2 separate regions of the Homo sapiens genome follow, and region 1 is linked to region 2. The links come from fine-mapping of genetic effects on gene expression. A gene starts in region 2. The other region holds a variant in brackets. All regions are shown on one strand. Distances are from middle to middle. Region 1 overlaps ADAP1 (ArfGAP with dual PH domains 1). Region 2 holds the start of COX19 (cytochrome c oxidase assembly factor COX19).

The links. PIP is the estimated chance that this variant, and not a neighbour inherited with it, causes the effect. A credible set is the group of variants that fine-mapping cannot tell apart.
Region 1: its variant is the best candidate, but not a certain one, in a credible set for the expression of COX19 in lung (TOPMed, PIP 0.65).

What each region holds. Positions count from the first base shown.
Region 1 is chr7:924,618-929,118 of GRCh38, forward strand. It overlaps ADAP1 (ArfGAP with dual PH domains 1), which reads right to left. Exons shown (of 11, transcript NM_006869.4): 3 at 1,936-2,027. Among named protein-coding and RNA genes, the nearest start is that of ADAP1, 28 kb to the right of the region's middle. RefSeq lists enhancers at 132-241, 3,418-4,004, 4,260-4,349 and a silencer at 1,084-1,233. The variant G/A (reference allele first, on the strand shown) is at 2,160.
Region 2 is chr7:973,533-977,764 of GRCh38, forward strand. COX19 (cytochrome c oxidase assembly factor COX19) reads right to left here and starts at 2,017. Exons shown (of 3, transcript NM_001031617.3): 1 at 1,896-2,017. The coding sequence starts at 1,977. RefSeq lists enhancers at 1,240-2,122, 1,422-1,491, 2,123-3,003 and silencers at 1,732-1,891, 1,912-2,191.

The DNA.
Region 1 (4,501 bases), 49 kb before region 2:
CCAGCATCCACGGCTCATACAGGGATTCACACCCCACCCCAGATAGTGGGTGTCAGCCCTGGGAGTCTCCTCACCCAGGACCCAACAGCAGCAGCCCCTGAGTCCACGAGCACCCCCAGCCCCCCGCACCCATGTCAGCCCCCGGTCCCGACTCAGAACAGCCAGGGAGTGGGAGGAACTTGGAGACAGTGACCCAGGCCACAGAGCAGCTGGGGGCGGGGTGATAAAATAATGTCTTAAAAATAGCTGTGCTGGGGCTCCATGATTCATACCGAGAGCCCGGGGCACGGCCAGGGCAGGGTTCCCCTGTGAGGGCTCAGGGGGAGACAGCAGCTGGCACCTGGGGCCTCAGAATGAGAGTACGGGGGGCCAGGGCGCCAGGCCTGCCCGGGTGGGAAGGGAGAGGTGCATGCACGGGGCTGAGTCGCCAGCCTCGGCCTTCTCAGTGGCGATGTGGGGATTGCAGCTGGACCTGTCTCCAGGCTCACGGGAGGCTCATCAAGAAAACGCCTGCCAAGCACCTGGACGGGGGCCTCGTGACCCCAATAACAAATCAACATGCAGCCAAAGAAACTGAGTCGCTCGTGGCCTGAACACACCTCCAGCCCCTGCTCCCCGAAGACCCCGGGAGGGCCGGTTCATGCTGCAATCCCAGCACTTTGGGAGGCTGAGGCAGGAGGATCGCTTGAGCCCAGGAATTTGCAACCAGCCTGGGCAATGTAGGGAGACCCCGTCTCTATATTTAAAAAAAAAAAAAAAAAAAAAAGGCCCAGGATGGTGTGTAGGGTTGCAGCCGGGAAGTCCGTCCTTCCTCCCCTCTCCCTCCTCCCTCTTCCCTCCGGCCTCCCCTCCACCCTATCCCCCAACCCCCACCCGCCTTCCAGGGGCCTTCGGATCCAGTGAGGACCCCTGATCCCACTGCCCCTTCATGGAGCTCACTGCAGGGGGCACAGACCCCAAACAGGGCCCCGGATGCTGGGGAAGACCCCCTGGTCACTGCAGTCCCCACCAGCAGCTCCTGGGCAGGCAGAGCCCAGGCTGTCTCAGCCCCCGAGTCAGGGCAGAGCCAGCAACGGCACGTGGGCCCCTCATGGGCTGGGAGGCCAGGCGCCCGCCGCTTTCCTGCGGCACTGTTGGCTCACACCCAAACCCTGCACCCAGCTCGTGCTCGGGGTATCTCTGCGGGGTGGGCCCTCTGCTGAGTGGGTTCACGGAGTGAGTCAACGGAGGGCGGTGCCCAGTGAGGCTGGGATTGAACCAGGGCAGGAAGCATGGGGGGCCGGGAGGGCACCCAGTGGGCCAACACGTCTTTCCCCTGTGACAGGTACGAGGGGGTCGGTGCGAACAGTCAGGCTGGGCCCTGTGTGGTTGTCACCTCTCATTCCCACCGTCCGGGCAGATGGGGAGACTGAGGCTTGGAGGGGCGGGTGTTGGTGAAGGCGGCTGATGTGATACCGAGCAGGCCTCATTCCCTCTCTCCACAACCTCCCGATCCCAGGATGCTCAGAGGACTGGGTCTCAGGCTTCCCCAACCGGCCACCGGTACCCACGTCCGCTCCCGCCCTGAGGAGCCAGGGCAGGCCCCGAAACAACAGCCGCCCCTCCCGTTCCCCTCCCAGACCGCCAGGAGCACCTGGGAGGGCCCCTCAGATCCACCCGAGACCCCCAAGGCCTCAGCGAACCTGGGTGGGCTGTAGCTACTGATGCACAATGACCTTCCCAGCCCCACCCCAGCGCCCCCCGCCCCAGAACCAAAGCCCGGTGGTGGCCAGCAGACACAGGCGGCACCTCGGGGTCTGGGGGACGCAGCTGCGGCTGGCTTCTCCCCGACCCTGTGGGCGGCACCCAACTCCCCACCCTGCCGGGTCCTCCCGGGGCCATCTCGGAGCCACCCAGCACTTGACCATGGCCCTGACAAGGCCCCTTTGTACTCACTGGCAGTCGGAGGGCGTGGGCCGGTAGTAGAAGGAGGGTACTTTGGACTCAAACCTGGCTCTCGCGGCGTCGTTCCCGTGGGAGGCCATGAACTGCAAGAGAGGAGGGGCCGGGTCAGAGGCCTGGGGTCCCAGGGGCAGCCTAGGAGGTGCCAGCTGCCCTTGGGGCCGTCACCACAGTGACCCGCAGACCCAAGGCTCTGAGGGCTCCACCAGCACCAGGAC[G/A]GGAACGCCACCTCCTCCTGCCCCAGGGACACCATTTCTGAGTGATCGACCCTCCCCTGGGACAGGGAAGGAGCCAGCGTCCCTAACGACGGGGTCCCGGCAAAGGGGGCCCAGGGGCCAGGCCCCTTTTGAGGATGGGTCTGAGGTTTGCCCCACCGTTTCAACCCCCAAGTCCACCCACACCGGGTGTCCCGTGGGAGAGAGCTGGCTGCATCCTGTGACCCCCATCTCTGCCCCAGAGAGCGAGGGCTTCCTCGTTCACCCAGCTCCCCAGCTCACATTTAGCAAAGAGCCAACAGGCGCCAGACACGGGGGCCTGGAGATGGGCTGGTGAGCGAGAGACCCAGATGTGGCTAGGACAGAGTCTCTGAGGGGACTCTGCAGGGACACACTGCAGGGACCCAGAACATGTTTACGAAACAGGCTGAGGGAGAAGGAAACGGCGCCGTGAAGGAGGGGAGGTGCTGCAGGAGGCTGTCGTTCCAGGAGGCTCGTGCTCCAGGAGGCTGTCACGCACACTGTGCTCCTGGCAGGCGCAAAGGCCCTGAGGGTGGACGCTGGCAATGACCCTGCCGCCAGCCAGGTATGGTGAGCCTTGAGCAGCAGGAGGGGCCGCCACACCCCACGCCAGCCCCGAGGGCATGGGAGAGGTTCTGCTTGCTATGCTGTAAGCCCCCAAGGCAGCTGCTGTTTGCACCTTCAAGCTCCTGAACACCACTCGCCTGAGGCCGCAGCCAGGCCCAGCCAGACTGAAGTCCCCTGACATCACCCTGCTCCGAGGATCACATGGCAGTAAACAGGGAGGGCCCAGAAGAGCAGCTGGAGAAATCACAAGCAACAAGAGGCTGGCACCAATTTAAAATTCGAAAACCAATGGCTTTTCCATAGAAAACTCAAATACAAGGAGAGATCCTGTCACCAACAGCAACAGGACAAATCACCTGAGTGGCTGGATGAGAAATGTCCCAGGTCTCCAAGGGAAAACTGGCGTGTGCTCCCGAGGACGAGAGCCTCGACCCGAGACACAGGGAGGTAGAAAAATGTCTCCTTATGGGAGTCTACATGTTTTTTATAATAATTGCCAAAAAACAGCAACAGAATTTATTATATTTTTTTACCTAGAAATGGTTCTAAAGTTGAAAAAATTAACAAGGGCCAGCCGGGGACAGGGGCTCACATCTGTAGTCCCAGCACTTTGGGAAGCTGAGGTGGGAGGACCCCTTGAGCCCAGGAGTTCAAGACCAGCCTGGGCAACATAGTGAGACCCTGTCTCTCAAAAAAAAAAAAAAAAAAATTAGCCAGGTGTGATGGCGCACACCTGTAGTCCCAGCTACTAGGGAGGCCGAGGTGGGAAGATGGCCTCAACCTGGGAGTTTGAGGTCGCAGTGGGCTATGGTCGCACCACTGAACTCCAGCCTGGGCGGCAGAACAAGACCATGTCTCCACTGGACACAGCGGCTCACACCTGTAATCCCAGCACTTTGGGAGGCCGAGGCGGGAGGATCCCTTGAGCCCAAGAGGTCAAGGCTATGAGCTATGGTTACACCACTGCACTCCAGCTTGGGAAAAAGAGCAAGACCCTATCTCTGCAAAAAAAGGAAGGTAAAAATAAAAAATAAATAAAAATGGGTAAGGGTTTTTAAAATTACTTTTACATGCATATGTATACTTTTAATTTGTTTTAATGGAGGTGGGGTTCCACTCTGTTGCCCGGGCTGGTCTCAAACTCCTGGGCTCAAGCCATCGTCCCACCTCGGCCTAAAAATGGGGAAGGATTTGATCGGACATTTCTCCAAAGAAGATGCACAAATGGCCACTCGGCCACGCAAAGGCACTCAACACTGTTAGCTGTCAGGGGAACGCAGATGAAAACCTCAATGAGCTACCACCTCTCCCCACTAGGATGGCAAGGTCAAAGTGGCACAGGGGAGTGAGCTGGAGAGAATGTGGAGTGATCAGAGCCCCCGCACGCTGCTGGTGGGAACCTCCGGCTCTGGTGACTAACAGTCTGGCAGTTCCTCAAAACGGTAAACACAGAGTTACCATAGAGTCCAGCGATTCCTCTGCACCGTAAGAGACGCGAAGACGCAGAGACATGCACATGAGTGTTCACAGCACATTCTTCGTGACAGCTGAGAACGGGAACAAGCCCCAGCTCCGTGAACGGAACCACAGATAAACTAAATGTGATCGAGCCACACCATGGAGGGTTCCTCGGCCATAAAGAGGAATGCCGGCCGGGCGCGGGGGCTCACGCCTGTCATCCCAGCACTTCAGGAGGCAGAGGTGGGCAGATCACGAGGTCAGGAGTTCAAGACCAGCCTGGGCAACACGGTGAGACC
Region 2 (4,232 bases):
GTGTGGCGCACGTCTGTGGTTCCAGCTACTCAGGAGGCTGAGGCAGGAAGATCGCTTGAGCAAAGGATTTCGAGGCTGCAGTGAGCTTGATCACACCACTGCACTCCAGCCTGGGCAACAGATCAAGACCTTGTCTCCTAAAAATAATCCAGGCTGGGCACGGTGGCTCACGCCTGTAATCCTAGCACTTTGGGAGGCAGAGGTGGGCGGATCACCTGAGGTCAGGAGTTCAAGACCAGCTCGGCCAACTTGGTGAAACCCCATCTCTATTAAAAATACAAAAATTAGCCGGGCATGGTGGCGGGTGTCTGTAGTCCCAGCTACTCGGGAGGCTGAGGCAGGAGAATTGCTTGAACCCAGGAAGCGGAGGTTGCAGCGAGTCGAGATCACACCACTGCACTCCAGCCTGGGTGACAGAGTGAGACTCCATTTCAAAAATAAATAAATAAATGATCCAGCCTGGTCAACATGGGGAAACTCCATCTTTAAAATAAAAAATAAAAAAACAATAATAATTAGCTGGGTGTGGTGTTGCACACCTATAGTCCCAGCTACTCTAGAGGCTGAGACAGGAGAATCGCTTGAACCCGGGAGGAGGAGGTTGCAGTGAGTCGAGATCACACCACTGCACTCCAGCCTGGGCGACACAGTGAGAGTCCATTTCAAAAATAAATAAATAAATAATCCAGCCTGGGCAACATGGGGAAACCCCATCTCTAAAAAAAAAAAAAAAAAAAAAATTAGCTGGGTGTGGCGCTGCACACCTATAGTCCCAGCTACTCTAGAGGATGAGACGGGAGACTCCCCTGAGTCCAGAAAGGAAGGAGGCCGAGGCTTCAGTGAGCTATGATTGCACCACTGCACTCCAGCCTAAGCAACAGAGTGAGACCGTGTCTCAAAACAAAAACAATCAAACCCAAACTTGTTTCCTTCATAAACATGCTGAAAACAACAATGGAAAAAACCCACAACGAGGTAAAGTCAGCCCAGTACGAGGTTAAGGTGCAATGTAGGTGATGGTCACAGGAGAGTTCAGGGTAAAAATTCTTTCATTTTTGCTATTTGAAAATGTCACAATAAAATGTTGGGAAAGAAACAGTAATTCACAGATCGTTTTTCTTTTCTTTTCTTTCTTTTTTTTTTTGAGACGTTGTCTCACTCTGTCGCCCAAGCTGCAGTGCAGTGGCCCGATCTCGGCTCACTGCAACCTCCGTCTCCCGGTTCAAGCGATTCTCCTGCCTCAGCCTCCCGAGTAGCTGGGACTACAGGCGAGCCACATCACACCCAACTAATTTTTGTATTTTTAGTAGAGACGGGGTTTCCCCATGTTGGGCAGGCTGGTCTCGAACTCCTGATCTTAAATGATCCGCCCACCTCGGCCTCCCAAAGGGCTGGGATCACAGGCATGAGCCACCGCGCCCGGCCCACAGATCCTTTTTCGAAGCCTTCATGTCCACGGAGGCAACCCCACCGGAATACGGCCAGAAGCACTGGGAGATCAGCAGCACTTTTGAGCTTTGCAGCAGACATCGCTAGGCACCGTCTAAGCCTCGGCTGCAGCTGCGGGCTTCGTGGCCGCCGAATGCCCCGCTCTGCAAACCCGGGGCACAGACAGCCCGCCGGGTGAGTCAGGGCGGAGCCGGAGACCCGGAAGCCTGACGCAAGGAGTCGGTGTCGCTGCCCTCGTCACGGGGGCCACGGTCCTGCCAGCTCCCACCTGCAGGGTCCATGCCGCAGCAGTGACCCAGGGCTGGGTGGGGCGGAGGGGCGGGCCGCCGTGCCTCAGTTTCCCCGCCTGCACCGCGCTAGATGCCGGCACCCCATAGGGCTCCGCGCTGGGCCGCGACCCAGACCCCCCATCGCAGACCCCTGCCCGCCGACCTTCCGCCGCTCACCTAAGTGATCCAGCGGGAAGCTGCCCTTGTCCGGGGGCCGCGGCTGGAAGCTCTTGGTCCCGAAATTCATGGCGGTCGACATGTTGGCGACTCCGGAGTCTGCGAGCGCCTTGCGAGCGTACGCAGGGCGGCCGGCGGAGCGCCGAGCAGGCACCCCGGGAGCGCCGAGCACGTCGAGCAGGCCCCGTCCCCGCCCCTTGCCCAGGCCCGGCCCCACCCCTTGCCCAGGCCCGGCCCCACCCCCTCGGAGTCAGCAAGCTCCTGAGCCCCGGTGGGCGCTGCCCGGGCTTTCCCGTCCCCTGGGACCCTCACAGCAGTCGGTAGCAGAATCAGCTTTTGGAATTGGTGAGAAACCGAGGCCCAGAAAGGTTCAGCGAATTGCCCGAGGACACATAGCGGTGCCGGCGTCTCTGCATCCCAGGTGTCTGCTGGGGCCTCGGTTTCCCCATCGCACAGAGACCTCATCACGGGGCCCATCCGGGGAGGAAGGCGGCACAGGAGGGACAGGAGAGCCTGTGGACTCGCTGCCTGCGGCTGCTGGAGCCAGGTGACACCACCGAGCAGCTTCAACAACAGGAATGTGCTCTCAGTCCTGGGGTCTGGAGTCCAAGCAGTGGGCAGAGTGGGGGCCCTGGGGACAGTCCCAGCCTCCCAGCTTCTGGGGGCCGCCAGCCTGTGAGGTTCCTTGGCTTGCAGAAGCACCACCTGGTCTCGGCCCCTACGTTCCCATGGTGTCCTGCGCATGTCCAAATTTACTATTTTTATTTATTTATTTGAGACAGGGTATTGCTCTGTTGCCCAGACTAGAGTGCAGTGGCATGATCACGACTCACTGCAGCCTCGACCTCCTGGGCTCAGCGATCCTCTCACCCCAGCCTCCTGAGTAGCTGCGACCACAGGCACACACCACCACACCAGGCTAATTTTTCTATTTTTCGTAGAGATGGAGTCTCCCTATGTTGCCCAGGCTGGTCCTTAACTCCTGGGCTCAGGCAATCCTCCTGCCTCAGCCTCCCTAAATGCCGGGATTATAGGCATGAGCCACCATGCCCAACCTAAATTTCCTCTTTTTATAAGGATAGCAGTCATGTTGGGTTAGGGGCCGTCCCAATAACTTCATCTTAACTAATTATATCAGCAGCAACCCTATTTCTTTGTTTTGTTTTTTAAAACGGAGTCTCTCTCTTGTTGCCCAGGCTGGAGTACAGTGGCTCGATCCTGGCTCATTGCAACCTCCACCTCCCAGGTTAAAGCAATTCTCCTGCCTCAGCCTCCCGAGTAGCTGGGATTACAGGCGCCACCAACACACCCAGCTAAGCTAATATATTTTTTTTCAACACAGAGTCTCACTTTGTAACCTAGACGGGCGTGCAGTGGTACGATCTCGGCTCACCGCAACCTCCACTTCCCGAGTTCAAGAGATTCTCCTGCCTCAGCCTCCAGAGTAGCTGGGATTACAGGCATGCGCCACCACACCCGGCTAATTTTTTGTACTTTTCGTAGAGACGGGGTTTCACCATGTTGCCCAGGCTGGTCTCGAACTCCTGACCTTAAGTGATCCGCCCACTTCAGCCTCCCAAAGGGCTGGGATGACAGGCGTGAGCCGCCGCACCTGGCACCTATTTCCAAAGCAAAGGTCACATCCTAAGGTCCTAGTGGCTTCACCATACGAATGGGGGTGGAGGGTAGTTACAGCTCAACCTAGGGCAGAATGAAAGTGTACTGTAAGCGGTAAGGCCCGGCCTTTGCGTGTCGATGTTGTCATGGCAACAGCAGTCGTGGGAAAGGGCTCAGTGAAGACCCCAGCGTCCACCCGCGGAGTCTCTCCCAGCCCTGAACCTGTACCCACATGCCCTGGCCATGAGGAAGTCGAACACTGGCCCGTTTAGAGCACCATGGGCGGCCCAAGCTCCAGCCTCCACTCACTCATCCATCCCACCCATTTCACAATCACTGGCCAGGCCTTCGTGGTAAGCACAGTGGGTCCCCAGCAACACCGAGTTCGCTGCCTGGCCCCCCGCTCTGGACCCTGGTGACACCTGAACCCACTGTTGCTTAGGAGCCAGTTCCTGCAACTTCCCAGGGGTTGTTTGCAGACAAGGGCTTGGTCAAGGCGGCCCAACAGCCCCCACCCCGGGGCCTGCCCTTCTTCAAGCCTGGCCCAGGCGTCCCCTCCCCATGAGGCTTCCAGCTCTCCCCCTTGCTGGGCCCTGGTGAGCCCGCCCCTCTGCAACGCACACCATTAGATTCCTGCGCCCAAGGTCGGACTCTGCTCTGTGTGCCCAGAGCTGAGCCGCGAGTCTGGCACTGAATGTTTCTGAACCGCAGGGCAGTGGG